Homo sapiens: one gene and its partner. The protein of the gene in region 1 purifies or fractionates together with the protein of each later gene. This does not show direct contact. Each region holds a gene or a part of one and is shown on either strand. Other genes may lie near its edges. The genes, in order: CLEC16A and ACTR2.

Region 1 (16,609 bases):
AGGGGGGTGACAGGGGTTGAAAAACTGTTGGGTACTATGCTCAAAAAAAGAAAAAAATTACTAAAACTCAAACCGTATACTTAAAATAGGTAAACTGTATACTTAAAATAGGTGAACTTTATGGCGTGTAAATTATACTTTAATAAAACTATGAAGAAACAACAAAACATCTCACCTACCCTCTTCTAATCAGAGGCTTCTGTTAATGTTTTGGCACATTTTCTCTGTACTAGTATTTCTTTGTAGGGATAGTTTTTTTTAAAACATACAAAACTCTTGGTAATAACATTTTTATCATCTTTCATTTAAAATTATAATGTTTTCCACAGTCATTGCAATTATTTGTAAAACATGATTTTTAACTTGGGCTTATTATATGTGTTCGAAAGTATGTCTTGAATACTTTTCTCATTTTAAAATAATGTCCCAGTAGAGTGGGACATAGAATAAAAATGAAAGTTCTCCCCTTAATACTTCTCCCACACACACACACTCCTACCCCCAATTCTCACTTCACTCCTCATGGGTAACCACTGTCCACAGTTCGGTTAAACAATTTTTAAATGGGTATATAATTTTGCATCTGGTGGGAAAAAATTGCACTCAAATAGTTCTCCTGTTTGGGGACATTTAGGTTGTTTCCGGACTGAGCTCTCTTGTTTAAAACATAAGTGGCAGAGGATTGCATACAGCGGTAGACCATAGATCTAATGGTCCTATGTTACCCTGGTGATTTCCAAGTCAAGGGTAGACATTAAATTAGACATTGAATTTGGGGATAACTTTCTTTTTCTTTTCTTTTCTTTTTTTTTAGACAGGGTCTCGCTTTTGTCACCTAGGCTACAGTGCAGTGGTACACTCATGGCTCACTGCAGCCTCTACCTCCTGGGCTCAAGCAGTCCTCCCGCATCAGCCTCCTAAGTAGCTGTGAGGCTAATTTTTTTTCTGCTTTTTGTAGAGACAGGGTCTCACTATGTTGCCCAGGCTGGTCTTGAACTCCTGGGCTCAAGCATTCCACCCACCTTGGCCTCCCAAACTGTTGGGATTACAGGCACAAACCACTGCACCCAGCTGGGGACAACTTTCAAGTAAGAGAAGGAACCTAGCATATGCAGAGGACTCCTATGCACAAGACCCCATGCTTTTCCCGCCTTTTCTCATTTAACGCACCAAACAATTCAAGATAAGGGACGTTAATTCTCATTTTACAAATGGGAAAACTGGTTCTGAAGGGCCAAGTGCTGTACACATCCAATGCCCATCCATGTACAACATCCACTGCAGGGCTTGGCTTTAAATTGTCATACCCTGAGTTGAGGGCTTGGTGATTCTGTCATGGCTCAGGGGACTCTTGCTTTACTGTCTTTACTTAATTAGGTGAACTCAGTTTAACCATCACAACTGTAAACTGCCATTAGTCTTTAAAGAAGCACTGAAATGTTACTGAGGTTCTTGGTTTAAGTAAGTTCCATTTGTCTATTTTTGGCTTTGTTGCCTGTGCTTTTGAGGTCTTAGTCATACATTCTTTGCATAGACCAATGTCCAGAGAGTTTTCCCCAGATTTTCTTCTAGGATTTTTATAGTTCTGGGTCTTACATTTAAGTCTTTAATCTATCTTGAGTTGGTTTTTGTATACAGTGAGAAAGAGGGGTCCAGTTTCATTCTTCTGCGTATGGCTGTCCGGTTTTCTCAGCACCATTTATTGAAGATGGTGTTCTTTCCCCAGCGTATGTTCTTATCAGTTTCATTGAAGATCACTTGACTGTAAATATGTGGCTTTATTTCTGGGCTCTCTATTCTGTTCTGTTGGTCCATGTGTTTTTCTTTTTGTTATTTTTTGAGACAAGGTCTTATTCTGTCACCCAGGCTGAAGTGCTGTGGTGCGATCTTGGCTCACTGCAACTTCGCCTCTCAGGTTCAAGCGATTCTCCACCTCAGCCTCCCGAGTAGCTGGGACTACAGGCACACACCACCACGCTCAGCTAATTTTTTTTATTTTTTGGTAGAGACAGTGTTTCACCATGTTGGCCAAGTTGGCCTTGTAAGTCGTGACGTCAAGTGATCTGCCCACCTCGGCCTCCCAGAGTGCTGGAATTACAGGCATGAGCCACAGCACCCAGCCTATATGTCTATTTTTATACCAGTACCATGCTGTGTTGGTTATTACAGCCTTGTAATTTGAAGTCAGGTAGTGTGATGCTTCCAGCTTTGCTCTTTTTTTGTTTGTTTTGAGACCAGGTCTCTGTCATCCAGGCTGGAGTGCAGTGGCATGATCATGGCTCATTGCAGCCTTGAACCACCCTGGGCTCAAGCCATCCTCCCACCTGAGCCTCCTGAGTGGCTGAGACTACAGGTGTGGGCCACCACACTCAACTAATTTTTTGCATTTTTTGTAGAGATGGGGTTTTGCCGTGTTGCCCAGGCTAGTCTCCAACTCCTGAGCTGAAGCGATCCTCCCTCCTCGGACTCCCAAAGTGCTGGAATTACAGGTGTGAGCCATCACACCTGGCCTAGCTTTGCTCTTTTTGCTCAGGTGTGCTCTGGCTCTTTGGGCTCTTTTTTGGTGCCATATGAATTTTAGGATTTTTTTTCTAATACTGTGAAAAATGATGTTGGTATTTTGATAGGAATTGCATTGAATGTGTAGCTCGCCTTGGGTAGCATGGTCACTTTAACGATATCATTTCTTCTGATCCATGAGCGTTGGATGTTTCTCCATTTGTTTGTGTCATCTTCAGTTTCTTTCTTGGATTGCTGATTGTTTTGTTGTTTTGTTTTGTGTTGTGTTGTTTTGTTTTGTTTTGTTTGAGACGGAGTTTTGCTCTTATTGCCCAGGTTGGAGTGCAGAGCGCGATCTTGGCTCACTGCAACCTCCACCTCCCAGATACAAGCAATTCTCCTGCCTCAGCCTCCCAAGTAGCTGGGATTACAGGTGCCCACCACCACACCCAGCTAATCTTTTGTAGTTTTAGTAGAGACAGGATTTCACCATGTTGGCCAGTCTGGTCTCGAACTCTTCACCCCAGGTGATCCACCTGCCTTGGCCTCCCAAAGTGCTGGGATTGCAGGCGTGAGCCACGGCACCCAGCCATGCTGGTTGTTTTTAAGCTACGGCTTGAGCACCTAACATGCAGTAAACATTGGACAGATGCTTTATGTACTTTATATGCTTTATATCAGTCCTAACTAGTAGCAGTTTGAGGGAGTGTGCATTCTCTTTATTATCCAGATGAGGGATCTGAGGTCCAGAGAGGAAAAGAAACTTTCCCGGCATAACTGTCAGAGAAGGGACTCAGACCTAGGTCTGTGTGACTCTAGGCCTGGGCTCTAACCACTGAGCTCTGCTCCTGATAGAATGAGAGTCAGCTTTGGTGTCTCCATCACCCTGGGCAGCCAGACTGTGCCTCATTCTCTTCTCACCTTCCTCCTCCCAGATAACAGCGACTTGATTGCATGTACAGTGATCACCAAGGATGGCGGCATGGTCCAGCGATTCCTGGCTGTGGATATTTACCAGATGAGTTTGGTGGAGCCTGATGTGTCCAGGCTTGGCTGGGGAGTGGTCAAGTTTGCAGGCCTATTGCAGGTAAGATGGCCAGGAGCTCTGGGATCTGTTCTCAGTTGGCTACAAACACACACACACACACACACACACACACCACACACAATTGTCATCTTTATCATTAATTTGTAGTGATATTATACAAGGTATATGTGAACAAATTGTCACCCAAAAAAAAGCTAAAATACCACATAAATGCACAGATAAGAGCAAAGTCCTCTTTGACCAAAACGCTCGATTCTTACACCTCCCCTCCACCAGAGATAATCTTCATTATCAGTGTGACCTTTCCAGATCTGTTTTTCTGCCAAAGGCATATATAAATGTAACTACATGTACTATTTTTAAAAATTATATACATATACTTGAGAGTGTATGTGTGTGTTTTTTATGATATCACATTGAATATGTTCTAAACTTTGCTTTTGTCATTCAATATCAATAGTGTGTCTTGGAGAGCCAGCCACATTAGTACACGCAGACTTCCTGGTATTCTTTTTCACTGCTTTGTGACTATAGCAAGGCATACTTAACCCATGCCGTGTCGGCTATTTCCAGTTTTCTGCTATTTCAGCAGACGGTGCTGCCATGAACAGAATCACTCTTACTTCTTTATGCACTTGGGCAAGGTTTCCCTAGGCAGATACCAAGAAGCTGGGGTGTACTAATTTTAAGTGTTAGTAGACACTGCCAAATACCACTCTAAAATGATTGTTGCCACTGGCATTTTTGTGAATTCCCTTCCGCTCAACGTCACCCCAGCAGAGCTAGGCTCTAACTTGCCAAGTACCAAGCTGGGGCTTGGGTTTTGGGGATTTTTTGGGTTTTTTTTTGTTTTTAATGTTTGCCAACGTGGGCCAGACGTGGTGGCTCGTGTCTGTAATCCCAGCACTTTGAGGGGCCAAGTCAGGTGGATCACTTGAGGTCAGGAGTTCGAGACCAGCCTGGCCAACATGGTGAAACCCCGTCTCTACTAAAAATACAAAAATTAGCCGGGCATGATAGCAGGCACCTGTAATCCCAGCTACCCAGGAGGCTGAGGCACGAGAATCGCTTGAACCCAGGAGGCAGAGGATGCAGTGAGCTGAGATCGTGCCACTGCACTCCAGCCTGGGCGGCAGAGTGAGACCCTGTCTCAAAAAAAAAAAAAAAAAAAAAAAAAAAAGTTTGTCAACGTGATAGATAACTAGTACCAGCTCTTTGAGTGAATAAAGCAAAGAATCAGAAGGGTTGAAAGCAGCCTCCCAGGTCGCCCCTCTGCCATACCCCTTGTCCCTGGATGTCCAGCTGACACTTCAGGCCTGAACTTTGCCCTACTTCAAGGCAGTCCATTTCTTTGCCAGCCAGCCCTGGTTTCTGGAAGGGCCTTGGCTCAGGCCGCCCCACCTCTGCCTTGCCGCAGCCTGACCTGCTGTCTGTGTCCTGCTCTCTGCGAGAACCACCCACATACTTGAAGCTACTGTTACAGCCTCTTCCCCAGCCTCCTCTTCTTCAGGATCTTTCTATTGTAAAAGTGTCTTTTACAAAGTGTGGTGTGAGAAACAACTATAGAAGAATCTTTCATTTAAAAGAAACACTCCATGTAAGACATTATCCATTAAGTGACTTATGCTTATCTATCTAGGCTTTATCTAGGCTTATGATTAATTTCCTTTAGAATTTAGTGTCAGGCAAGTGTTTTTCTCCCCTGAAGAATTAATATGTGTCTTCCATCAGACAATGAAAGCCACATAAACCTTTTTTTTTGGCCGTCTTCCAATGGGTGCTATTTGTCAGGTCTTTACTATACCAGACTCCCTGCTTTAAATGCAGAATGCCTCATCTGATCTTACTGCCGCGTTTTGATGGGGGTGTTATCTCCAAAGAGCCTGTGCCAAATGTAGTGCCTGAGAACCACAACCATCTTCCTCTGTGAGCCTTTTCCAATGTTGTCCCCACCTCCTTTAACATTTCTGACTTTTGTGTTCATTCCCTCTCAGGCTTTTATATCAGATCACCTCAAACCTTCATGGGAGTAGATTGTCTATGCAGAGTCCGTTCTGAGGTTTTAGACTGGTTTGTCTTTATTATATTTTGCTACATGTTCATTTATTCTCCACCTTTGAAACACAGTTTCCTTCAAATCTCTGCTCAATGACCTTCCCTATCCCTTTCTTTTTTTTTTTTTTTTTTTTTTTTTGAGATGGAGTCTCATTCTGTTGCCCGGGCTGGAGTGCAGTGGTTCGATCTCGGCTCACTGCAACCTCTGCCTTCCGGGTTCAAGCGATTCTCCTGCCTTAGCCTCCTGAGTAGCTGGAACTACAAGCGCACGCCACCATGCTTGGCTAATTTTTGTGTTTTTAGTACAGACTGGGTTTCACCCTCTTGGCCAGGCTGGTCTCGAACTCCTGACCTCGTGTTCCACCCACTTCGGCCTCCCAAAGTGCTGGAATTATAGGCGTGAGCCACCGTGCCCAGCCCCTGTCCCTTTCTCAGGATTAGCTTTTCCCTTTGGGGACCAGAAGTTTGTCAAAGACATACAAATGGTTGCCAACGATGTCCCCTTCTTAGAAGAAATAAGGAAGAAATTGATGAGTAGATGAGCAACTATATCTGAGATCATGCCAGATGGTAATAGTAATTTTGGTTCATTATCTCTGGCTTCTCAGAAGTAAGAGTTTGCCTGTGGTGTTACCTGTGGCCCCTTGAAGAGGCTTGTGGGGGTACGCTGTTATTCATGAGCTGACCCCAGTCCTCATGGAAAACAGGCACCAGCCACCACCACCAGCATCCGCTCCTTTGGGGTACTCTGTGCCTCCTCCCACACTGTCCTCTCCCACTGGGCCTGGTCTGCCTTGTGCCCATCCATGACTCTGTTGGACTTGGGAGGCTGTCGATCTTAGATCAAAAGCAGAGATGAATTTGGAGACCTCTTTCTAGATGCCTCATGATGCCACAGCTCCTAGCCACCCTCCTCCCAAACCCAACGAATGCCTTTTCCTTTGCTTCTCACTGTGCAGGACATGCAGGTGACTGGCGTGGAGGACGACAGCCGTGCCCTGAACATCACCATCCACAAGCCTGCGTCCAGCCCCCATTCCAAGCCCTTCCCCATCCTCCAGGCCACCTTCATCTTCTCAGACCACATCCGCTGCATCATCGCCAAGCAGCGCCTGGCCAAAGGCCGCATCCAGGCAAGGCGCATGAAGATGCAGAGAATAGCTGGTGAGTGGCTGGACCCTGGCAGGGCATCCTCTGAGCACTTGGTGGGTCAGGGCTGTTTGTAGTTCTCACACTGACCTTGAGAACCCCCATAGCATAGAAGAAGACACGTATGATTCAGGAATTGTTTTATATACGAATACGAGGAAGTTCCATTTCCTGGGTGTTTGGTTTCTGGTGAGTTTCTAGGGCTGCATGGAAGAGAAGAGGAGCTCTCCCTAGCAGGCAGGAGGCCAGCAATAAGTAGACGTCAGTGTGGGACCACTCTTCTCAGCCCTTCACACTGAAATTCTCAAGCATATGTTAACAAAGTGCTTTGACGTTACTCTACCACCTCCGATCCTTAAAACAACTCTGGAGTTCTGTAGGGCCTGCTCTGCCCATTTTACGGAGAAGGAAACAGGCTCAGGGACTTGCCCAAAGTCACACAGGCAGAACCCACAGGCAGAACTTCCTACTGTAAACTTACCCCTTCCTCCTTCCCCTTCCCAGTTCTTATAAGAGGCAGCCCTGCTTGGTGAAAGGCTGGAACCCTTGGAAGGAAGTCATTTTACATTTCACGGGGATTGCGGTGAATTTCTGAGGAAGCCCAACACTGCCCAGTATTAGGAAGGCCAGGATTTATTACAAGGAAAGTCACAGAAATGAGGGAGATGCGTTCATTGGGCAGGAAGGCAAGGCCTTCTCCTCGGCGTGGGGGGAAGGCATGCTGTCAACTCCTAAAATGACAGTCTTTCTCAAGATACCCAGTGCCATTCAGTTCAGGCACCAGTGCTCATCCTGGTGGCTGCTGAGAGGATTTTAAGCCTACCTGGGGATGTGGGGGTGCTTTCTCAAGGGATAACTTTAAAATAAGCCCTTGACCAGGCACGGTGGTTCATGTCTGTAATCTCAGCACTTCGGGAGGCCAAGGCGGGTAACTCACTTGCGCCCAGGAATTCGAGGCCAGCCTGGGAAACATGGCAAGACCCTGTCTCTACAAAGAAATTACAAAAATGAGCCAGGCGTGGTGGCATACGCCTGTAGTCCCAGCTATTCGGGAGGCTGAGGCGGGAGGATCACTTGAGCCTGGGAGGTGGAGGTTACAGTGAGCCATGATTGCACCACTGCACTCCATCTTAGGAGACGGGGTGAGACCCTGTCTCAAAATAAACCCTCAGAGGGCCAGTTTCTGGGCGTTACCGATGCGATGATTTACTGTGCTGATTTGCACAGGCCCGCGTCCCACGTTGTCGTCCCCGTCTCATTTCTCACTTAGCTGAAACTTGGCCTACAAAATCATTACTGAAGCATTCTGTAATGTGCAAAGTGACTTAAATCATTCAGCCCTTTCTTTTAAGATTTATTTTCAGAGAGTTTTTTTTTTTTCTTCATGTAAAGCAATTTCTCACAGCTGGCATGAAGGCCAAATACTTCATTTGAAAATTGAGAATTATGCTGTAAAGTGGCTGTTAGAACTAAAGCCTTGGGTATTTCTTAAATTGATTTTAAAAAGCCCCTCCGTATGGATATATTGGGAGGTTTATTTATGGAAGGGAGGTTAGTGGCTGAGACAGATAAACACCCACTCAGAGTTACACATGTACATGCACATCCATATTTTCGCATGCTCCTGCACATGTGCGGATATACATACACACGTATACGTGTGAACTCTCTGGGCAGACTCGGCCCCACTCGCTTGGGGTCTGAAACAGCCTTTGTCAGGGTCCTTTACACATGGAAGCTGAGAATCCAAAGTGGAAATTGACCCAGCTTCCATTCCACTCGAGGAGCCCAGGCTCAAACCCCTTTCTCCTTGGTCTCAACCTTGGCCCGAAGCCCTCACTTGGCTTCCGCTTGTGCGTTGAGCCTCAGTGGGAACTTTGATGTTCCACTGGTCTCTGCAGCTTGAGGCTGCCTGCCGCCCACTTGGCGTCTCCCAAGTGATGTGCCTGGCAGGGCCACAGCCACTACGATGTCCCCCCCCCCAAATTCTCACCACCCCCCTCTATCCCACATGCTCAGAGTGAACCATGCTATTGTTTGACCGTAGCCCTCCTGGACCTCCCAATCCAGCCCACCACTGAAGTCCTGGGGTTTGGACTCGGCTCCTCCACCTCCACTCAGCACCTGCCTTTCCGCTTCTACGACCAGGGGCGCCGGGGCAGCAGCGACCCCACAGTGCAGCGCTCCGTGTTTGCATCGGTGGACAAGGTGCCAGGTGAGCCAGCCCCCCGCCCTGCGCCACAGCTCGTTCATCATGGTGGGCGTTCAAGGTCTTTCTCTCTGTGGAGCCTGTGTGAGCTGCCCTTCCTCTCTCAGAAGCCCCGTCGGCTGGCAGCACCAGCTTCTTAGAATTTGTCAAAGCACAGCGCAAGATTAAACACAGCCCCCAAAATAAATTTTGGCTTTCCCTTTAGTGTTTGGTTTGGTTTTCCAGAGATTTGTTGGGTATGTGGAAGAACTTCTCAGAATTGACTAAGAATTTTCTTGGAAATTTCTTGGAAACATTTAAATGATTAGTGCTGAAGTTGTGGGAGAGTAATTTCCTTCTCCATGTAAGATGACTAGAAAGAGAGAGTGTGTTTGGTTCCGGTTACAACCCCCTGAAGAAGTGAGACTTCAAAAGAAGGCCGTGCTGCCCACAGGTCAGCTGTCCACTCCTTCCATATGAGGGCGTCTCCTCCCACTTTTGCCACAGCTCATCTCTAACCCTGCTCCTCCGCTCCTCCCAAAACAGAAACTTGAATGGAAAGTCCATTGCTGATTTGTCAGAGTGGAAAGGACCACTTCTCCAGAAGACCGAGTTCTCCCCTTCCTGTTCTGACATGTCTGCTTTAAGTAAATCCGTATGCACCCCGATCCCTCGAAAGAGAGCCTTTCTTTTGGTTGCAAAAGTTTAGAGCGCTGGCCAAGCTCTCCCTCACAACTTAACCCCTCCCCATATAGGGCTTCAAACTTAAGTTGCAAGTGTTGTGAAATGTTTTCAAAAGCAGTTATTGATTTAAGAACAAAACGCAGCCATAGGAACCTGCTCAAAACCCGAGTCCTGGTTCCCCCATGTGATTTATTTTAGTTTCATTGTTTGATAATTCATTATTTATATGTATATACCGTAGGCATATGATTTTTTAAAATCCAGACAGGAGATGATCAAATGAAAAATAAGTCTACTTTGCTTCAGAAGTAACTATTGTTAACAGTTTCTTGCCTGTCTTTCCAGAAATATTTCTTTGTATGTCATGCATATGTTTGTTTTTTACACATGGGGTATACCGTATGTCTGATGCTGCACCTTGCTACTTCTTCCTTAATAGAAAGTGTCACACATTAACACGTATAAATCAACCTAATTCTCCTTAACTGTTACATGGTATTTTGTCATATGGATGGGCAAAAAAATCTTTTTTGCTGTTTCGTATTTGGGTCATTTCCAGTGTTTTGCTCTTACAGTGTCACAGTGAGCATCCTTAGGGTGTCTTTGTGTAATTGTGCAAATTTCTCATGTCTGTGTGATAAATTCCTAGCAGTGAATTTGCCAAAGGGGAAGGTTTTTAATCTTGATATATGTAGTCCCAACGTGAACTCTAGAAAACAGTACACCAATTCACTCTGCCACCCACAGCTTGTGATTGGTTTCTTTCTTAAATCCAGTCTCAGGGCTGGGCATGGCGGCTCATGCCAGTAATCCTAGCACTTTGGGAGGCTAAGACAAGGCGGATTGCTTGAGCCCAGGAGTTTGAGACCAGCCTGGGCAACACAGTGAGACATCGTGTCTAGTATAAATAAAAAATTAGCCAGGCATGGTGGTGGGCACCTGTGGTCTCAGCTACACTCAGGAGGCTGAGGTGGGAGGGTCACTTGAGCCCAGGAGGTTGACGCTGCAGTGAGCTATGATTGTACCATTGCCCTCCAGCCTGGGCAACAGAGTGAGACCCTGTCTCAAAAAGAAAAGAAAAAAATAATCTTAGGCTGAGAGACTGATTGTGGCACCGCCTGTTTTCAGTGATGAAATGTGAGATGATTCTGCCTGTTTCAGGGTCAGGAGGATTCTTTGCTTAAAAAATTCTGCAGGTTGCTTCGTGTTCTGTGGCTATGATTGCTAAGTAAATATAAAGTGTGACTGAGTCTAAGTTAACTAAGTACAAATTGACCTGGTAAGAAATGACTTCTTTAGGGTCATTGAGGCGTCTTTCAGTTTCGGAACTTACTGGTTAAAGAGAAAAGCCCAGGCCTTATTTCTGTTCTGAGCCCTTTTGGAACAAGGTAGAATGTAAATAAATACATGGAGCCAAGCGGCCCATTCTTCAGCATCTACATGATCATTTCTCTGTTTGCAGAATGCTTTAGGATGACTTATTGCTTACCTCTTCTACCCTGCCTGGCCTTCCACCGGTGGGTGAGAACATCAAATGCCAGGAGTGTGGCCCGGCTCCAGAACCTGGGCCTGCCTGCCGGGGTGGTTGGCACAGCTGGGATGCCCCATGTCCTGTTGCTGGTCCCAGGGTCAGCAAGTGTGAGGCTGTGCCAACTGGGACAACAGCAAGTCAGAGGTGGCTGCTGAAGGCAGCATCCACCCCTTGGCTGTGTCTCCCCTGACTGCCCCTGGAAGTGCCACTCAGCTATGAGGAGTGAGATGGAGACATTCTTATTTATCACACCACCCCCGCAAAGAGGGAGGCCTCGCTGCCCTCCCACCTTGGCTTGGCACCAGAGCTGTGTCCTGAAGAGCAAGTTGAAATCCCTGAGCCTTGGCATGGTGGGAGCATAGGCTGCCCCCACCCCCATCTCAGTAGTCAGGGTCCCCCACAGCAGCAGCCACTCAGCACTTTGGAATCATTCTTAAAACTTTTCACCCTGCTTCCACACCCACCAGCCTGCTTGGCCTCCAGAAAATACTGAGATCCGAGATCTCCTCTCCCAGATCTCCCAAGATTGCAACAGAAGCCTTCTCAGGATCCCTAGCTTCCATTCAGCCAGTGGGATCATTCTAGTACTTAAATCAGATTACGTCATACCCCTGCCTCCAGCTTTTTGGTAGTTTCCTGTTGCACTTAGAACAAAATCCACATCTCTCCTTCTGATCTTGGGTGGTGGCTGTGAGATCCGGCCCCAACTGGCCTCTCAGATGAAGTTCCCCCAACCCCAAGCTCACTCTAGCCCCAACCCCAGCCTTGCCAGCCCCTGCTGCTCCTCTAAGCTAGCATTTCTCAGAGTTTTAGCCTCAGCACCCACGTGTTTATCTGCTTAAAAAGTATTACAGAACTTAAAGAGCTTTCATTTAGATAGATTATATTTATAGATATTTATGACATTAGAAATTAAAACTAAGAAATGCTTTCAATATATACTTCTTGAATAAACCCATTGCATATATGCATAACTAACATAGTTTTCTATGAACAATAACTCTGTTTTCCAAAACATAGAAAAAAATTGATCTTGCACATTTCTGCAAGTCTCTTTAATGCCTGGCTTAATAGAAGACATCTGGATTCTCCTCTTTGCTTCTGTTTTCTGTCTGTTGTGATAGCATGCATTCTGTGGCCTCTGGAAAACTCCTCAGTACACCCCTGGGAATATGAACATAAAAGAAAAATGTCTTACTATTTTTATGAAAACAAGGATTTCCAGACCACACTTTGAGACCCACTCCTGTAAATCACTGTGGCCTTCCCTGCCCCAGGGCCTTGCACTGGATGTCTGTACCCAGATGTTGGTGTAGCTGCCTCCCGCTAACGGCTCAGGCTTAGTTTGTGTGCCGCCTCTTCAGTGGCCTTTTCAGATCAGCTCCTGGCTAGGGTTGTCCCCTCCCGCCACTGCATTGGCCTGGTTCCTTTTTTTTTTTTTTTTTTGAGATGGAGTCTCTCTCTGTCGCCCAGGCTGGGGTGCAGTGGCACAGTCTTGGCTCACTGCAAGCTCCGCCTCCCGGGTTCACACCATTCTCCTGCCTCAGCCTCCCTAGTAGCTGGTACTACAGGCGCCCACCACCACGCCCGGTTAATTTTTTGTATTTTTAGTAGAGATGGGGTTTCACCGTGTTAGCCAGGATGGTCTCGATCTCCTGACATTGTGATCCGCCTGTCTCGGCCTCCCAAAGTGCTGGGATTACAGGCGTGAGCCACCGCACCCAGCCTAGCCTGGTTCCGTTTATCCACAGCACTGAGGTTCCTTACCTGGCTGATGCCTTTGTGTGCCTGGTCATAGTCTTTCTCCCCTGCAGAGAGGGTTGCCTGCGTGGGAACCTTCTGTGCTGTTTACCCTGCATCTCAGCGCCTAGCTCTGTGCCCCCACTTAGTATCGTTGAGTGAAGAATGAGCCTGCATTTGTTATCTGCTCAGCCTTGGAACAGAGCCCATCAAAGGCCTTCTCCCTTCTCTGAACACGGGAAGACAAGGAAAGTCCCTCTGGGGCCCTAGATACTTGGTGGTTTAGTCCATGGAACTTTGACAAGGGAACACAAAGGAACTGAGAACCGAGAAGACCTTAAGCAGCATCCCTCGGCTAAATTTCTGTCACCAAGCGAGCAAGATGTGTGTCCAAGGACCATGTACCCAGGTGACAGATTTAGGTTGGTTGCATATCAACTGAATTTCACCACCCTCCTCCTACTCAGAGTTTTACAGAAGCCACAGAGTAGTGACACGGGGAGCCGGGCAGTGGAGGGAGATTCGGTCATCAGAAACCTGGCCCAGGTTGGCCTCTGATACTGTGACATGTCACCATTGCCATCAAGGGCCCGTGGGTGCTGGGGCGTGACCACTTCCCACCCTCCACAATGGTGCCCCTCCCCATAGGCCGCACAGCGCATGGAGTCCTTGCTTCTGCCTAGATAATAATTCACAAGGAAGAAAACAACTCTGGCTGCTGCCTCGGGGTGGCTGCCAGACAAGGGTGTTTTATTAGGACACATCTTCCGATTTTATCTGCGGGCCCAGGTAATTGTCATAGAGCAGTTTGTCTCCCCTTTAGAAGCTATAAACGATTGTATTTGATGAAAATATGCCTTTCATTTCCTTGGATGAGATATTAAAGTAGTGTATAAATCAGGGCTAATAGGTGACTAGCCACTTTGGTGTATTTTTCTTCTTCCATTTGGCTCAGAAAAAAAAAATCACAAGTTCTATTTATTGGCTGGTTTTATGTTGATGGCTCTCACCCTCACAGAATGTTCAGCTTCACGAGGGATTGTGCGTGCGCCTGGCCAAGGAGGGGGGTCAGTGGCGGCCAGTATGTGGGGGTGGGCAGGCATGGCCAGGCCTAGACTCTAGCCTGAGCACTCTGTGGCTTTGAGTGCCATGTTGCTGTGGTTAGTGCCTCATGGACCTGGCCCATGGCAACAGCTGCTTCTAGAGATAGAATCTGTCATGATGGGCAGGGTGTCCAAAACTCGCCTGCAAGGCCACCCTTTCCATAAACTCCAAGTGGACCAGCAGACCCCAGAGCAGAAGCTGTTCCCCAGAAATGACCCAGGGGTGTCAGGGGCTACGGCCTCCCAGAACAGCCTTGCTCCTCACTCTGGGCTCCTACTGGCCCAGAGGCTGCTTCAGGAGGCCGCAGGGAACCAGAGCTGCTTACAGGTGTTACCCTGGTGGGTTGGTGGGTGTGGGAAGGGCTGGCAGAGCACACAGCTCAGAGGAGCAGCCAGGCAGGTTGACATCTCCTGGCCCTTGCAGATGAGGGCTTAGTGACATGACAAAAAAGTGACCTGTTCCCACCTGGTTTACCATCAACCGCTCCCCACCAGCCTGTTAACTCCGGGACAGGGACTTCTCTGCCTCTTCTGCTGCTCTCTCCTTAAAACCCACCAGCCCCTCCTGTCACCAGCCCCTCTCTGTGGCCCATGGTCCCATGCAGTCTGGCCCCTGCCCTCTTCTGGGATCAGCTCCCAGCCCTCTCTCCCCTCGGCTCTCTGCAGATGACACAATCCAGCCCTTCAGCCGCACTGGCTGGCTGGCTGTGCCTCACCAGGGCCAAGTGCGTCCCATTTCAGGGCCTCTGTTTTCGTGCTTCCCTCCGCCTGGAGCCCTCTGCATGGCTGGTTCCTTCTCAGCACTCAGGGCTCTGCTCCGATACCTCAAAAAGGGGCCTTCCCTGAGTGCCCAGGTCACCCTAGTTCTCTGCACGGCAGCTTGTTTTTAATTGAGGTGAAATTTAACACAACATAAAACTAACCACTTGAAAGTGAACAATTCAGTGGCATTTAGAACCTTCCCAAGATTGTGCCATCATCCTCTCCTCTAGTTCCAAAACATTTCCATCCCCTCAAAAGAAAACCCCATAGCCATTAAGTAGTCATCGCCCACCCACCCCCCCCGCCCCCGCCCCCATCCAGCCCCTGGCATCCACTAATCTGCTTTCTGTCTCTATAGATTTACGTAGTCTGGGTATTTCATATCAATCATACAATCCATGGCCTTTCATGCCTGGCTTCTTTCAGTTTGCATCATGTTTTCAAGGTGCATCTATCCTTCTTTTAGCTGAATAATATGCATTATATGGATAGACGTTGTTTTGCTTCCACCTTCATCCATCAATGCACATTTGGGCTGTGTCTGCCTTTTGGCTATTGTTGAATGGGTTGCTGCGAACATTCGTGCACAAGCTTTTGTTTGAACGCCTGTTTTGTTTTCAGTTATTTCTGGTATATACCTAGGAGTAAAAAGTAGGTCATGTGACAATCTAACTTTCTGAGGAATTGCCAGACCGTTTTCCCATGGTCTTCATAGTCCTTAGCTTTAGCTGAAATTGCCTCTTGTATTCCTTGTTCTCTGACACTATCCTGCACTAGAATGGAAGGCACTTGGCCAGGGGGTGGGTACAGGGTTGTGGGGAACCTCGTTTGTCTTGTCCTTGACAGTGCTCATGGATGCCTATGAAGTAGTTGCTCAGTGAATACCGATGTGTGGGCGGATGGATGCATTGGTGGATGGGAGGCTGGGGGACAGAGGATGGGGCTGGAGGAATTGTTCAGTCTTGTTTTCCCAACAGACTGTAAACCCCTAAGGCCAGGGTATTTCTGTCTTATTCAGGTCTGGTACCCTGTGCCAGTTGGTGGTGGTTTGGGTGTGAGCTGGCAAGTTGGACTTCATCCCTTAAGGGCTAAGCTGGACTTTATTCACTTCCTGTCCCAGCTTCCTACTGGGTTTGGGGCTCCAGCTGTCTTGTGGTAGATATTTAACTCCCCTGTATCACCTGAGGTCAGGAGTTCGAGACCAGCCTGGCCGACATGGCGAAACCTCGTCTCTACTAAAAGTACAAAAATTATCCCAGTGTGGTGGCGGGCACCTGTAGTCCCAGCTACTCGGGAGGCTGAGGCAGGAGAATCACTTGAACCCGGGAGGTGGAGGTTGCAGTGAGCTGAGATCTTGCCATTGCACTCTAGCCTGGGTGACAGAGTGAGACTCTGTCTCAAAAAAAAAAAAAAATTTTTTTTTTGACTCTCCTGAGTATCTGGGCCATGCCTTGCTTTTCACCGGTGTTATCTTTATCAAAGGCACCTAAACCGGCAGGGTCAGTCACGTGACCCAGAGCACTTAATAGTTCCGTGGAAAAGCCTCGCCGGTTCCAGAGGCAGCCCTTGGCAGCTGAGTAACTTAGGAAGAATGCAGAAATGACAGTGTGCTATGAGCCAGCTGAGCTGACCGCAAAGCCTCTGACCGCCATCCAAAAAGGCAAAAAGAAAATTGATGTTTCATTCATAGACATCAGTTCAGACCTCCCCTGAGAATAACGTCCTAGGTGCTAATGTCATCTCATGGTGGCATTTTCCAGGAACTAATTTTTTAGTCCTCTTATTTTTCTTGTTTCTGATTATAAAACTGGAGCCAGTTCTCTCCTTGTAGCTCCCCAAGGCAAAAAATA
Region 2 (16,609 bases), on another chromosome or scaffold:
CGCCTCCGCCTCCCAAAGTGCTGAGATTACAGGCGTGAGCCACCGCGCCCGGCCATGATTTTCTTAACAGTATTTCCTCTAGCTTACTTTATTGTTAAGAATATAGTATATAATACATATTATGTTATCAGTAAGGCTTCTGGTCAACAGTAGGCTATTAGAAGTTAAGTATTTTGGGTGGTAGTTAAGTTTGCACGTGAGTAGGGAGGGTTGGTGCCCCTAACCCCTGCATTGCTCATGGGTCAACTGGATCACTCACCTTCTAACAAACCATTTAATTAACTCTGTAACTGCTTATTGTATTAGCCTTTTCAGTCTCCTTCTGCTGGCTCCTCCATAAAAACTTAATTAACTTAATTAACTCACTAAATTAAAAACTTAATTTTTTTGGTCTGTTTTTCCCTGTTAGAATATATACACTCCATGGCAGTAGGATTTTTTGTTTACTGATCTATCCTACTTTCCTACTTAGAATAATGACTAGCATATAGTAGATACTTAATAAGATCTGAAGGAAAACAATTATTTTTATTCTCTTTATCCATAGCAACAGTAAGAAAATTTTTGATTTAACATAATATCACAGAAATACACATATGCATATCCTGCATAAAAACTCACCTCTACAATCTTCTCTCTGTTTTTGGTTGGGTTCATAGGAGGTTCTGTGAGTAAGATTTTACAATTTCTGGTATCTATATTAAGTTTCTCTGGTCCAAATGTGTAGTCCCACAGGTGTTTCATGTCATCCCAATTTCGTACTATGCCATTTTCCATAGGGTAGTTAACTTCTAACATTGATCGTAATTCACTTGCCTCATCACCAACCATAAGATCCTAGAAAATTATGTCAAAGCTGTAGATCAAAGTTTTGCATAATATTTAAGAAAACTTGGGAATAATTAATTTTAATATTTCTGACACTTGCAAAATAAATCTTTTTATTCCACAAGTTAGAAAATCTTTTCTATCAAGAACAATGTCTTAGAAAGTTTAATCATGGATAATACATTTTTACATACAATGTGGTTTAAATCAATAAATTGACCTTACCTTTAACACAAATGTTTCCAAAAGAAGAGCATTAGCACAAATAAACCCCACATTTTCATATTTTGGAGGGTTTTGTATGAGGTTTCATCTGTTTCTTTTGCTCAATTGTTCAAAAAATAAGGCCTGTGATATGTGAAATAGCACATCAGGGGGAAAAAAACTTGTAGAAAAATGCTCAATGCATGCAGCACATTTCTTTGCACTAAATATCAAAATGATAAATGTAAGTACTATAAAGCATAATGAAAGAAGCAAAAAATAAAATGATTCTTTATTACTCTATAATAATGCATACATACACCAACTAATAAATAGCACAAACTTCTATCTACATATGCCTGAATAAGAATTTAAACTGTTTCTACATATGCCTCACCAAGGTGAATGAGAATTTGTAGAGTTATAAAAAATTAAGATATAGGCAAATAACCCATCCTTTAAAATTGTCTCCTGAGCAACATTTTCAATCTTAAAGTATACTGGAAAACTACACCATCACACATGAAGCATAATACTCACAAGTCTTGTCTCCAATGAGAGCATACTTAAGATGACCCACATTTGAAAGTCACATTTTCTATATATAATAAGTAAGGATGTCCTAGCATTTAGACTTATTTTTAGAGAACAGCTAGTCAAGAGGTTAAATAATACTAATTTCTACATATGTTGATAAATTCAATTAAAAAAACTAGTATCAGAAGTAGATATTTGCTACAATACGTTAAGTTTTAATTATGGAGAGACAAAAAAAAGCAGCAGCAAAATTAACACGAGATTATTTTTTTGAGACTGAGTCTCGCTCTACTGCCCAGGCTAGAGCGCAGTGGCATGATCTCAGCTCACTACAACCTCTGCCTCCCAGGTTCAAGCGATTCTCCTGCCTCAGCCTCCTGAGTAGCTGGGATTACAGGCACCTGCCACCACGCCTGGCTAATTTTTGTATTTTTAGTAGAGATGGGGTTTCACCATGTTGGCCAAGCTGGTCTCAAACTCCTGACCTCAAGTAATTCACCCATCTCGGCCTCCCAAAGTGTTGGGATTACAGGCATGAGCCACCACACCTGGCCAACATGAGATGTTTTAAAACAAAGGCTTAAAAATATATGAGTTTTAAATTAAAAAAAAAAGAAAAAGAAAATATCAGAGATGAAACCAAGGTGAGGACTCTAACAAAAAACCAAACAGATCTCTGGAAAATCCACTAAAAGCATCAAAAAGTATAACAAAGTTAAAAACAGATGCTAGAAATGCTCAGTAAAAATTTGTTGCAATTTCTTATGAAGTTCATTTACCATAACTTACTAACTTATTACTCAAATATCTGAAATATTAAATGTTTACACTCTTTTTTTTTTTTTTTTTTGAGATGGGGTCTCACTCTGTCACCCAAGCTGGAGTGCAGTGGTGCCATTATTGCTTACCACAGCCTCAACCTCCCCAGGCTCAGGTGATCCTCCCACCTTAGCCTCCCAAGTAGCTGGGACTACAGGCTACATGCCCAGCTAATTCTTGTATTTTTAGTAGAGACAGGGTTTCACCATGTTGCCCAGGCTGGTCTTGAACTCCTGGGCTCAAGGGATCCGCCCACCTCAGCCTCCCAAAGTGCTAGGATTATAGGCATGAATCACCACACCCAACCGTTTAGATTCTTCTATGAGGAATATGCAAAACTAAAAATCTGTATTTGTGAATTCTAGTTAATAACATGCACATGTTGAAGTATTCAGGGAGAAGTATACTGGTATCTGCAACTTACTTTGAAATCCATCAAAAAACAAGATGCACTGATGAATGAACAGATGAACAGATATGTAATAAATCAGTATGATATATATTAATGTCAGAATCCAGGTGATGGATATACAAGTTTCATTGTAAAATCATTTCAATATTGCTACATTTTCTTAATACTGCTTAATAAAATGTTAGGGGGGAAATCTATACCTGTAATTATATATACCATTTTTGTTACTAACTTTACGTCTTTTTTGTGTGTTGTACAAGATAACAGATTAGATAATTAGATAATATAATCAGTATTATTTCAACCAATTTGAAATAAGTCTGATCTGATTTCAACAGAAATTTACTTTTTATTTAATGTACAAATAGGGGCTTACATTTACATGACCCAATGCCAACTCTAAATAAATGCCTCATGTATCTACTTCTAGGACCACACATACTATAAAGGATTAACTGAAAGAAATGTTTGGAATTGAGTATCCTTACCTTCCTCAGAACAAACAGGACATTTAAAATGGAGTATTAACTTATTTAAGAAGTACAAAGTTTGACTATACAAGCTATCCAATTAAAAAATTTTCATATCGAAAATTTTAATAAAAAAATCCTACTAAGTGTTATATAACTTGCCTTCATCACTCAGAACCAAGTTATAAGTGATCAGATCAGACCTTAGGTTTTAACCACCTGCCCCGCCACTGAACATCACCTATCTGAAACAATGAAAAAAATCACAGTAACTGAGATGCTGTTTCAAAGGTATTTATACTTCATGAAAAGTGGGTAGTAGGGATTACATTTGCCAAGAATCATTTTGAACAATGTCACCTCAAATTAGAATACAGAGTAAACTCAAGTTCAAAAGCACAATTAAATCCCTAGAAGAAAATTCCACTGAAAACATTTGTTTGTTTGTTCAATTAACTAATAGAGGCAGGGTTTTGCTCTGTCACCCAAGCTGGAGTGCAGTGGCCCTGTCATCACCCACTGCAGCCTCAAACTTCTGGGCTCAAGCAATACTCCTGCCTTAACCTCCCAAGTTGCTTGGGAGGCACATATCACTATGCCTGGTTACTTTTTAAAAAACTTTCTATAGAGACAGGGTCTTGCCATGTTGCCCAGGATGGTCTTGAACTCCTGGGCTCAAGCTATCCTCCCACCTCGTCCTGCCAAAGTGCTGGAATTATAGGCATGAAACACCTCACTCGGTCAAAAACTTCTGTTAAAATAAGCCTACACTGTTCTCTACAAGCGCACTCTTTCCTTTTCTTTTCTTTTTTTTGAGATGGAGTCTCACTCTTGCCCAGGCTGGAATGCAGTGGCGTGATCTCGGCTCACTGCAACCTCTGCCTCCCGGGTTCAAGCGATTCTCCTGCCTCAGCTTCCTGAGTAGCTGGAATTACAGGCACACACCACCACACCTGGCTGATTTTTCTATTTTTAGTAGAGATGGGGCTTCACCATGTTCGTCAGGCTGGTCTTGAACTCGTGACCTCGTGATCCACCCGCCTGGGCCTCCCAAAGTGCTGGGAGTACAGGCACAAGCCACCGTGCCCAGCAAGCACACCCTTTTCTTAATCTCATTAGAATATAAACACAAATGTTATGATCTTTTATTTAGGATAAATTTCCTCTTTTAAATGTTTTTGTTTATTCAAAAGAAAACTTCACAAAGTTACTATTACTAGTTAAAATATATATTAGAAGTGCCTGATTTTTGTCAGAGATTCTTACAAACAATATTAAAAACAAACTTGAAAAGTATCTACTACAGAAGCACTTAGACTATCACAGAAAAATACAATGAAGAGTTAAATGTCTGAGATAAGACCAGCAAGCTTATAGTTATAAAGAAAAACACACTGTACAATGTTTGGGGGGGAAATCTGTTGTTTATAGAAAAGCTTTACCTTTTTCTTATTTATCCTCAGATAACGTTGTGAAATCTGCTCATCAGTAAGGATGATATGGAAAGAATTCTCTTTTTCTATCTATGGTTTATTTACATATTAAAATTTTACTCAGTTTATTAAGTACACATATGATACCACACTAGATGCAAATATATATACAGGCTATGACAGTCAATGTTCAATTTAATACTGGTCAATAAAGTGAATTTATTCAAATGTAACAACTTCACTTGAATTTTTTGGATCACACATATCCTATATAAAGCCATCTGGTTTCTAATATTATGCACAACACATTCCATTTTAATTATAACATTCATCTACAAGAAAAACAAGGAAAACAATTCAAAACTATGTTAGTAATTAGTTCTTGTTTGGTCCATTGTACGCAATCAGGAAAGTATAGGACTTAATTAGTTGCTATCAAATTGAAGCAATGAAAAAGGTTAAAAATCAAAGTACTTAAAATAAAAATATGGAAATAACCCCCCCTCCCCAATACTAAAGGGACACAAAACAACAACTACTGTCCCATCAAGCAAAAGTGGAAAACAAACAGAGCATGTGTGTAACCTCACTTACCATCTTTTTGTTATTCTACTTCAACGGGTCAAGAAAGGTGAAGAGAGAGAAGGTAGAAGTAAGAGTCAGAAAAGGCCTAAATAAAATCCTCACTGAAATGTTTAAACATACAAGCAATAGAGACAATTAGGTTGAGGTCAGATGCAGTACTACTATATTTAATGGAGTTAATAATTAGGGCCAAATTAACATGGACAGTTATTCCTGAATGCAAATTAACTCATTAAACGATTTAAATTTCCATTTTTCAGTCTACCACATTTTAGCTAACAAGACACAAAAAGTATAAGTCAAAATACTAAGCACAGGAATTCCAAAAAGTAAGCTTCTTTAATTCATTACTGAACTTAAGAACTTTAATTAAGAAAAATAAATGATAACAGCAAAGGTCTAGCTGAGTAGGCAGAGTGTTAGATAGCTCAGGGTTGTTTTTCCAAGCTCTAGTGTTCAAGTTAAATTTATTTGACACAGGTATCTTTTGCTGTTTTCTACTCGAAGAATAATTTAACTTGATAGGCTTACAAGATTGCACAGAGTGAACAGAATTGAGCCAATAGAATACAGAATGACAAACCATACAAGCAAATGCTGCTAGGGAATTCCTTGGCAAAAATGTTTTATTAGCATACTGACAAATTTGATTTCTATCACTTGGCCTTAAACACGAAGAAAGTGGGCATGAAGAGATGTGTAGTTATTTGTGCCTATGTTGCAAAATAAATTTATGGCTATACATGATATTTCTTCATACCTCAAAAATTTTATTGTCCAGTATATAAAAAAGCCATTCTTTAAAAACCTGACACTGAATAAAAAGTATAGCCTTCAACTTCATTAAACAGTTTATCCTTATCACTATTATTAGCTAATTTCCAGTCAAAGTTCATTTAAGATAGAATTCATTCAGAATGAAAGGAGTTCACAATAAGCAAGTAAGGAATCCCACAAATATTCCAAAAGCTCCTTAAAAAGGAAAAACTTACACTGAGTGTCCCATTTTATTTTTTTTGTTAACAGGAGAGGCCAGAAAAATTCGCTACTTTAACTCTGAAAAAAAAAAACTAACACAGAACCCAAGTTTCAGCTTGTATTTTTATTCATTGTGTAACTCAACTCTCTATCCCAAAAGCAGAAGGCTACATAGCAAATCTCTACCACCCATTACCACCTTCCTACATAAAACAAATGTCCCAAAGAGATACGCCCTAATGCATATTTCAAATGACTCATAACCTTACACTGAAGGCTTGCTAAAGACTATCCAGATAGGACAAACAATGCTAGCGTGTTCACAAATAATTCACTAAAAAAGACCCTAAATTCTATGGCATTCTGTATAACTTGATCCTTCAGTCACCTGAAGAACTTAAAGCCAACTGGTGACTACTGTCCTCTCACTGTTCTCTTTCTTGTCAAATATTGTAACTCCTACTTGATTTCTGATCCCTTTAATATGGGAGAAAAATCGATCGTCTTTTCATGTAGTCTTTCATCTTAAATACAGCGAGTAGGCAATGAAAACTTTCCTTCCTCTTTATGGTAAGATACATAATCCAAGGCCAAATAAAGGCTTGAATGGCTTCCTTCTGCACATTATGGAAATAAGTTATATTAATGAAAAGAGGAATCAATGAGATTTACACCCTGTGTTTTCCTAAATGGCTATATAAAAAAGTAGAGGGATCAGGCCATAAAAACATGAAAAGAAAAAGTCTAAGGTGCCAAAGAGACACTCACATACAATGACAAATATATGGAATTGAAAGACATAAAAATACCAGGCCGATTTCTTTTAAAAATTATATTATGTAATAGGACTTAAGTCACTAACACAGCGTTTCACATTAATGTAATAAACTTAAGTATTTTACTCCAAAGAGTAATGGCATCAAGCCATACATAAACAAAATCAGATGAAATTAACTTCAATTTTTGTGCCCCTGTTCAGGTGTTGATATAAATTAAAAATATGAGAACTTCTACCCTCCCCTTTGCTTTTCATGGCAACATATTTTAAAACTACTTAAAAGAACTGTTAAACTACTTTTATAAGAACACCTCACATGTCTTGATTATCATTTATCAATAAATAAAATATTACCTTGATTTCAATGTTTCCCACTTTGGTGGTTGATCTGATAATAGGTCTTCCAACCAAAGCTGGGAAGATGTGTTCTGGAAAGTTAGAGCCTGCATATCCACACTTCACAAACTGGAATGAAACAGTAAAATAAAAGTGGGTTAGCATCAGGATATTTACTATATTTTAAGACAGCATCTGAAAAATATCACTTTGCATTTATATAACATTTTAAACTTTTGGTGCTTTCAGTCCACCCGAAGTAGCCACTCAATCTATCGCAACATCTCCTTTTAACTTCTTTCACGGCATTGCCTACTTCCAGGGTTCATGTTTATTTACTGCTAAATTAGTGCCTAAGTTCCCTCACTAGACCAAAAGCCTCATAAGAGCAGGGAGCTAAGCTGAGCAGTTCGTGCTGGAATCCAATACCTAACAGAGCTCCTGGCACACAGTGCTCACTCCAGAAGTATCTGTGGGATGGACAAATTCGCTGAACAAATGCTAAGGTTTTTTTTGTTTTTGTTTTGAGACGGAGTTTCACTCTTTTTGCCCAGGCAGAAGTGCAATGGCACAATCTCGGCTCACTGCAACCTCCGCCTCCTGGGTTCAAGTGATTCTCCTGCCTCAGCCTCCCAAGTAGCTGGGATTACAGGCATGCGCCACTAAGCCCAGCTAATTTTGTATTTTTAGTAGAGACGGGGTTTCTCCATGTTGGTCAGGCTGGTCTCAAACTCCCGACCTCAGGTGATCCGCCTGCCTCAGCGTCCCAAAGTGCTGGGATTACAGGCGTGAGCCACCATGCCCGGCAAAATGCTAAGTATTTTTAGAAAGAGAAATGTGAGAAAATGAACAGAACTAAAGCTTCAATTCTAAAGCAGACTTTCATTCATTTTGGGCAAATCGCTTAGAGAATGTCATTTTCCAAAATGGGAAAACCAAGTGTCATTTAAACTAATATCACCGTATTATGAAAAGAAACATTTATTAGGCATTTTTGGCTATTTATTTCTTTGAGACGGAGTTTCACTCTTGTCGCCCAGGCTGGAGTGCAGTGGCGTGATCTCAGCTCACTGCAACCTCTGCCTCCCAGGTCCAAGCAATTCTCCTGCCTTAGCCTCCCAAGTAGCTGGGATTACAGGCACCCACCACCATGCCCAGCTAATTTTTGCATTTTTAGTAGAGACAGGGTTTCACCATGTTGGCCATGCTGGTTTCGAACTCCTGACCTCAGCTGCTCTGCCCACCTCGGCCTCCCAAAGTGCTGGGATTGCAGGCGTTGAGTCACCGCGCCTGGCTAGCTATTTACTTTTTTTTTTTTTTTTTTTAGACAGTCTCGCTCTGTCGCCCAGGGTGGAGTGCAGTGGCGCCATCCCGGCTCACCGCAAGCTCCACCTCCCGGGTTCACGCCATTCTCCTGCCTCAGCATCCCGAGTAGCTGAGACTACAGGCGCCCACCACCATACCCAGCTAATTTTTTGTATTTTTAGTAGAGACGGGGTTTCACTGTGTTAGCCAGGATGGTCTCGATCTCCTGACCTCGTGATCTGCCCGCCTCAGCCTCCCAAAGTGCTGGGATTACAGGCGTGAGCCACCGCGCCTGGCCCTATTTACATTTTTACATTTAGATAAATATATTTAGTAATACCGGGTAACATAATTTCATTCTCTGTGTACTGCTCCGAGAACATATCATTGTGATAAGACTTCCATTTTATACATAAGAAGCTGATATTCTACAGGATTTAACTACAGTAAAACTTGAGAGAATCAAGAGCTTTTAATACTTTTTTAATTTAAAAAATATTTAAAATTTAGAGTTGGGGTCTTGTATGTTGCCTAGGCTGGAGTGCAGTGGCACAACTGCAGCTCACTGTGGCCTCTAACTGCTGGGCTCAAGTGATGCTCCCACCTCAGCCTCCCAAGTAGCTGGGACTACAGGTATGTGCCACCAGGCCCGAATAAGTTTTTATTTTCATTATTATTTTTTGAGACAGAGTCTCACTCTGTCGCCCAGGCTGGAGTGCAGTGGCTCCATCTCAGATCATTGCAAGCTTGGCCTCCACCGCCCCCGCCCACGGGTTCAAGTGATTCTCGTGCCTCAGCCTTCTGAGTAGCTGGGACTACAGGTGTACCTCACCACGCCCAGGTAATTCTTTTTATTTTTAGTAGAGACGGGGTTTCACCATGTTGTCCTCAAACTCCTGACCTCAAGTGGTCCACCTGCCTCGGCCTCCCAAAGTGCTGGGATTACAGGAGTGAGCCACCACGCCTAGCGTAAGTTTTAAAATTTTTTGTAGAGATGGGGTCTCACTATGTTGCACGGGCTGGTCTGGAACTCCTGGCCTCCAATGATCCTCCTGTCTCAGCCTCCTGAGTTGCTGGGATTACAGACATGAGCCACTGTGCCCGGCAGTTACAAATTCTTGTATAGTCTGTTTACGCTGGGCCCAGTGGCTCACACCTGTAATTCCAGCACTTTGGGAGGCTTAGGCAGGTAGATCACTTGAGCCCAGAAGCTCGAGACCAGTATGGGCAACACGGCAAGATTCCCCCCCGGAAAAAATTACAAAAAATTTAAAAATTGGCCAGGCATTGTGGCATGTGCTATAGTCCCAGCTATTCCAGAGACTGAGGTGGGAGGATCACTTGAGCCTGGGAGGTTAAGGCTGCCGTGATCATGTGAGACCCTGTCTCAAAAAACATACAAAAAATAAATAATACATAGTCTAGTAAGAGCAGACATTGCAAGGAAAGGGCAATTAAAAATTTCAGGGTGGGAGGAGGAAGCTATATAAGAAAGGAAATGTAATCATAGTCTGCACCCTCTTTAACAAGCATTTATTTAATGTTAGCTACACTGTGTTTACTGATGAATTCCAACTGCCTAGAACAGCGTCTGGCACATAATAGGTACACAGTAAATGATCAATAAATATTAAAAGTTTTGCTGTTGACTTAACAGTATGATACCATGATTGTTTTAAAATATATTTAATATTCAGAAAAAGTCTGTTTTTCTATGGCTCCAGGCACCACACATTCTTAGAATTAAGGATGAAAAATAGTACCTGAATGTGATACATGACAGTAATAAAACAAAGGTAGACAGAAAAGAGCAATGTACCTCTTGATAGAAGGCTACTATGCACACCACTTGAATCACATGAGGCCAGAAGTTTGAGATCAGCCTGACCAACATGATGGAAACCCATCTCTACTAAAACCAACAAAAATTAGCCAGGTATGGTGGTGCATGCCTGTAATCCCAGTTACTTGGGAGGCTGAGGTATGAGAATCACTTGAACCTGGGAGGCGGAGGTTGCAGTGAGCTGAGATCACGCCACTGCACTCCAGCCTGGGCAACAGAATGAGACCTGTCTCAAAAAAAACAAAACAAAACAAAACAAAACCCAAAAAAACAAAAAACCAACAACAAAAGAAAGCTACTATCTACAAGAAACTCTTTTGTTTAATGCGGTAAAACTTAGCAAGATCTTATGTAGCTCTCCAAAACATAAAAATTTGGTATTTTCAAAGATCTCTACAGCAGCCCTGTTGGAGATGACGCTGATGAACCACATTTAATTATAAATAGCCTAGGACATTCTGCCATCCAGAATTTCACTTGTCTTTTTTTTTTTTTTTGAGATGGAGTCTCGCTCTGTCACCCAGGCTGGAGTGCAGTGACGTCATCGCAGCTCACTGCAACCTCTGCCTCCTAGGTTCCAGCAATTCTGCCTCAGCCTCCCAAGTAGCTGGGACTACAGGCGCCTGCCACCACGCCCAGCTAATTTTTGTATTTTTAGTAGAGACGGGGTTTCACCATGTTGGCCAGGCTGGTCTCTAACTCCTGACCTCATGTAATCCACCAGCCTGGGGCTTACAGGCATAAGCCACCGCACCCGGCCCCACTTAGTCTTTTAAAAACAGAGTTTTTTCAAATATGTTACAGTCATGACAATCAGATTAAAGCTTTTATGAAAAATTCGTCTGAAATGAGGAAAGTTCACACTCCCAATGCCACCTCAATTCCTATCCTTTCACCTCATGTTTACATTTTATTAATAGAAACTACATAAAACATATTATTCAGATGTCTTCTTACAAGCCCACAAACCTAGTCTTAGTTTATATTGAGCCACCAAGGTAAGGGCATTTTTCAGGTACAGCTATCCATTTCTAAAAGTATAATACAATTCTTTTGGATTATTTTATTTTATTTTATTGAGACTGAGTCTCACTCGGTCATCCAGGCTGGAGTGCAGTGGCGTGATCTCGGCTCATTGCAACCTCTGCCTCCTGGGTTCAAGCAATTCTCCTGCCTCAGCCTCCTGAGTAGATGGGATTACAGGCGCTCGCCACTGCACCTGGCTAATTTTTGTATTTTTAGTAGAGAAGGGGTTTCACCAAGTTGGTCAAGATGGTCTCAATCTCCTGACCTCGTGATCCACTCGCCTCAGCCTCTCAAAGTGCTGGGATTACAGGCGTGAGCCACGGCACCCAGCCTGGATTACTTTTTAAGGCAGAAGTTAGCATGATATGATAGCATATGCAATAGATAACCCACTTGCTCACAGCTATTTCCCCTTGGCAGTGGTTGATAGTGATGAACTGGAATACACTTCCCACCCTTAAAATGAACAGAATTCAGGAGTAGTAGTTCATTTTTTCTCAGTGTCTTCTTAAATAATGTGACCTAAGACATGGAGGAAAAACTACCTCAGAGGAAAAGAATAACATCTAGTATTTTTTAGTATTTTCAAACTAAAACATAACACACACACCACGTGCACACACACACACACACACACCTCTCACACACTCTTCTCTCCCAAATCACAAACTCTCTTTTAAGTCAAAATCCAGTTTACTTGATACAAACTTAAATGATATGGAAGAGAATCTGTTCTCATCATTATCCCTATTGTTCCCACATTTCTGTATAACATCTGTCATGATCGCCAGCCTAATGTCAGTCATAATTTACACAAATATCTCAAATATGGGAATTAAATACTATTTTGATATTAAATTATTATGCCTACCTCCAAGTAATAAACAGATATAGTCAAAAGTATCCATTTATCCGGATGAAAATGCTCACTTATATGCGTATAAATTATCTCAAAAAAATTATAGAATGAATGAATGAATGAAAAGAGAACCTACCAGTTTGTAAGGTTCATTTTTGGCATGCTGAATGCAAATAAATAAGTTTACTAAGTGAGAAATCGTAAGAGAAGCTGGAGGTGGCAGGAGGAGCCTGGGATGGAGCATAGGTCTGATCCTAGTGCAGGGAAGAGGCTGCTAAGGTTGACACGTCTCCCCTCTCCTTCAGAGCTACACACACTGGACATACAACATGGCAAAGTGGCAAATAATCACATCACTCAAAGTCTTCCAATTATAATCGTTCAGATGGGTAGTTCGTATCTTAACATTCTTATGAGTATATTTTAAGCAACAAACATTTCCCAAGTTAGAAGACAAAAACTGAAATCCCTGAAACTATAAAAACAACTGTAAACCTACTATTACTGCCTAACAAAAAAAAAGACTTTTCATTCAAATTAAAGATTATCAATCACTTATTAATAAAACTATTCTGCTTGAGCAGTAGTTTATTGGAAGCAGATGTTGCCATAGAACTCAGCACCAGTTTTCATACAGGGTATATATTCATCCATCAAGATAGCAAAAATTGCACTATTTCACATTACTTCAAAAGTGAAAACATTAACAGTTATAATAACAAGAACTAAAATAATTGGCTGGGAATGGTGGCTCACACCTGTAATCTTGGCACTGTAGGAAGCCAAAGTGGGTGGATTGCTTGGGCCCAGGAGTTCGAGACCAGCCTGAAGCTACAGAGCAAAACCCCATTTCTACAAAAAATACAAAAATTAGCCAGGCGTGGTGACACACACCTGTAGCCCCAGAAACTCGGGAGGCTGAGGTGGGAGGATCACCTGAGCCCAGGGAGGTTGAGGCTACGTTGAGCCTTGAGCCATGATTGTACCACTGCACTCCCACCTAGGCAACAGAGTGAGACCCTGTCAGGAAAAAAAAAGGCTGAGTGTGGGGGCTCACACCTGTAATCCCAGCACTTTAGGAGGCCAAGGCAGGAGGATCATTTGAGGTCAGGAGTTCGAAACCAGCCTGGCCAATATGGTGAAACCCCATCTCTACTAAAAGTACAAAATTGGCTGGGCGTGGTGGTGCATGCCTGTAATCCCAGCTACTTGAGAGGCTGGGGCAGAAGAATCACTTGAACCTGGGAGGCGGAGGTTGCAGTGAGCCGAGATAACATGAATACACTCCAGCCTGGGAGACAGAGTGAGACTCTGTCTCAAAAACAATAATAAAATAAAATAATTAAAAAAAAAATTATACTGGCTACTCTGGGCACACTGCCTATGGGGTAGTCCTGCTCTGCAAGAAGCAGTAAAGAAAAAATAAAAATTATAATTTTTAAATTATATTATTTTTTGTGGAGACAGGGGTCTCGCTGTTGCTCAGGATGGTCTTGAACTCCCAGCCTCAAGCAATCCTCCCACCTTTACCTCCCAAAGTGCTGGGATTATAGGCATCAACCACTGTGCCTGGCCCCAATTTTTCAATAATATAAAACTGACAATCTGATTACTTCTGCAAATAATAATAATAATCAGTATTAAAAAAAATCTAGACTGGGCGCAGTGCTCACGCCTATAATCCCAGCACTTTGGGAGGCTGAGGCAGGCAGATCACCTGACGTCAGGAGTTGGAGACCAGCCTGACGAACATGGAGAAACCACATCTCTACTAAAAATACAAAAATTAGCCTGGCGTGGTGGTGCACACCTGTGATCCCAGCTACTGGGGAGGCTGAGGCAGGAGAATTGCTTGAACCCGGGAGATGGAGGCTGCAGTAAGCCAAAATCATGCCACTGCACTCTGGCCTGGGCAACGGAGCAAGACTCTGTCTAAAAAAAAAAAAAAAACTAAACCATGATGTGATAAAATACAAAGAAAACATTCCTTTCTAAACTATCATTTGGTATCATTGGTATCATCTTAATCCTTGAAATTCCTCCCCCATGTCAATCATTTTAAGACTTGGTGACTTCGTTCTTTCATTGTGTGCAGTAAGGCTGTGTTTAAGAAATAGATTTTACCATATATAGTTTCCTCTTCACAGCAGTGTGGTTTAAACTAGTTCCCTTACTTCCCACTGAGTCATCAAATGGTAAGAATATGAACAGTATAATGTTCTTTCAAGCAAAAATGAAAAATTCTATCTACATCTGCTCTAAAAGTACATTTTTTTTTTCTCTTCAAAAAAATAATAACCTGGGATTTATAAAGCCCCATTTGGGCTTATTTAATATTTATTTTCCCCTTACTAATTTTATCTCATGGTACTGATGTTCTTTAGTAAGTTAACTGCACAGTGACTGTTCTGATCTTAGGCCACCAAAATATTTATTCTACTTATACCAAAGCATTTTGCAAGATGAAACCAAATTTGGTTTTGGTTTGTTTCTGTTTCAAACACTCCTAAATTCAACATATAAAGTAGCATAAGCCCGATAAAGCAGGCCACAATCAACTACAAATGTCAATTACATAAATGCAAATGCAATTATTCTAGCACTATAAGCTTCTCTGTACGACTGGACCTTATTAAGCACTGTGCCAGCAACATAGCACGCACTGGAGAAACCTTCATTTTGTTGGTGATCTAACTCAATGCTGATGAAATCACCCTAGTCTGGTAACAAGACACGTAACACCAGGGGCCTGGGCCTAGCTCGTGAAGAGGACCTAAACCTAGAGTTTCACAGACCTCCAGATTTTCACCTATCTGGGCCACTTTAAGTGGCTTGATTTCAGAAGGAGGTTTGAATGGTTAAAATCCACATAAATTATTGGATCAAATGAGTTTTCCTCCTCTGGGCAACCCTACTGAGACACTGGTCAAGCTGGGAGATAGAAAATCAAGCGGGACCAACATTGGTCATGTGATCGTAAGTACAAACTTGTTTCCAGGCAAACTTGTCCAACCCATGGCCCACGGGCTGCATGAGGCCCAACACAAATTCACAAACTTTCTTAAAACATTATGAAATTTTTTTGGTGATTTTTTTAGTTCATCAGCTATTGTTAGTGTATTTCATGTGTGGCCCAAGACAATTCCTCTTCCAATGTGGCCCAGGGAAGCCAAAAGACTGGACACTCCTGTCCTAGAATATTTAATTTGGGTCTGCCAGAGAGGTTAAAAGAATCGTAACTTTTTAAAAAGCCTGTAATTTTATTTTTATTTTTACTAGATATGGGGTCTTGTTATACTAACCCAGGCTAGTCTCAAACTCTTGGCCTCAAGAAATCCTCTCACCTCGGCCTCCCAAAATGCTGGAAATACAGGCATGAGGAACCACACCCAGCCAGCCTACAATTTTAAAACCTAAGGCATGTAAGGAGCAAATGAAAACACCTTAGGATAACAACTATTTCCATAAATTTGCAAAATTACATCTGAATATCTTCTTTAATATTTAATTATAAAGGAATCATTATAACTTCAGGTATCTAAATAAAATCAAGATGATTATTCATGTCTACAAATGGTAAGAAACAGAATACACAATCTAAGCGGTTCCTAGTCCTCTACATACTCAGAACTATTACAGCATTCCTGTTATATGATTCATGTATTTTAACAGCACTGTTTCTTCATTTGAAACCAATCATGTCCATAGAAAATCTGCATAAAATTTTAAAATAACTAGAAGCATAAGAACAGATAAATTTTATTTGAATTAATTACACTCACTTTTTTCATTTATGACAGGAATTGATCACTTGTCTTAAGGAAAAGAATCTTAAAAACATGGATTAGACACAAGACTAATCAATAACATACTACAATCAGCTTTTTTTTTTTTTTGTGACAGTCTCACTCTGTCGCCCAGGCTGGAGTGCAGTGGCGTGATCTTGGCTCACTGCAACCTCTGCCTCCCAGGTACAAGTAATTCTCCTGCCTCAGCCTCCCAAGTAGCTGGGATTTCAGGCATCAGAAACCACACCCGGCTAATTTTTGTATTTTTAGTAGACACGGGGTTTCACCATGATGGCCATGCTGGTCTCAAACTCCTGACCTCAAGTGAACCTCCTACCTCGGCCTCCCAAAGTGCTGGGATTACAGGCATGAGCCACAACGCCCAGCCTAAAATCAGCCTTCTAATGT

Evidence for each region.
Region 2: the proteins of CLEC16A (region 1) and ACTR2 purify together in Homo sapiens (affinity purification with mass spectrometry; 2 studies listed by BioGRID and IntAct, with this or other methods). This does not show direct contact.

What each region holds. Positions count from the first base shown.
Region 1 is NC_000016.10:11,117,181-11,133,789, forward strand, and holds part of CLEC16A (protein CLEC16A), read left to right. Parts: intron 1-3,434; coding exon 3,435-3,586; intron 3,587-6,561; coding exon 6,562-6,766; intron 6,767-8,798; coding exon 8,799-8,966; coding exon of another isoform or gene 8,967-9,100; exon of another isoform or gene 9,101-9,164; intron 9,165-12,190; exon of another isoform or gene 12,191-12,318; intron 12,319-12,921; exon of another isoform or gene 12,922-13,036; intron 13,037-16,609. UniProt on the Homo sapiens protein: Regulator of mitophagy through the upstream regulation of the RNF41/NRDP1-PRKN pathway. Mitophagy is a selective form of autophagy necessary for mitochondrial quality control.
Region 2 is NC_000002.12:65,230,752-65,247,360, reverse strand, and holds part of ACTR2 (actin-related protein 2), read right to left. Parts: intron 7,510-16,609; coding exon 7,399-7,509; intron 5,313-7,398; coding exon of another isoform or gene 5,298-5,312; intron 838-5,297; coding exon 622-837; intron 1-621. UniProt on the Homo sapiens protein: ATP-binding component of the Arp2/3 complex, a multiprotein complex that mediates actin polymerization upon stimulation by nucleation-promoting factor (NPF).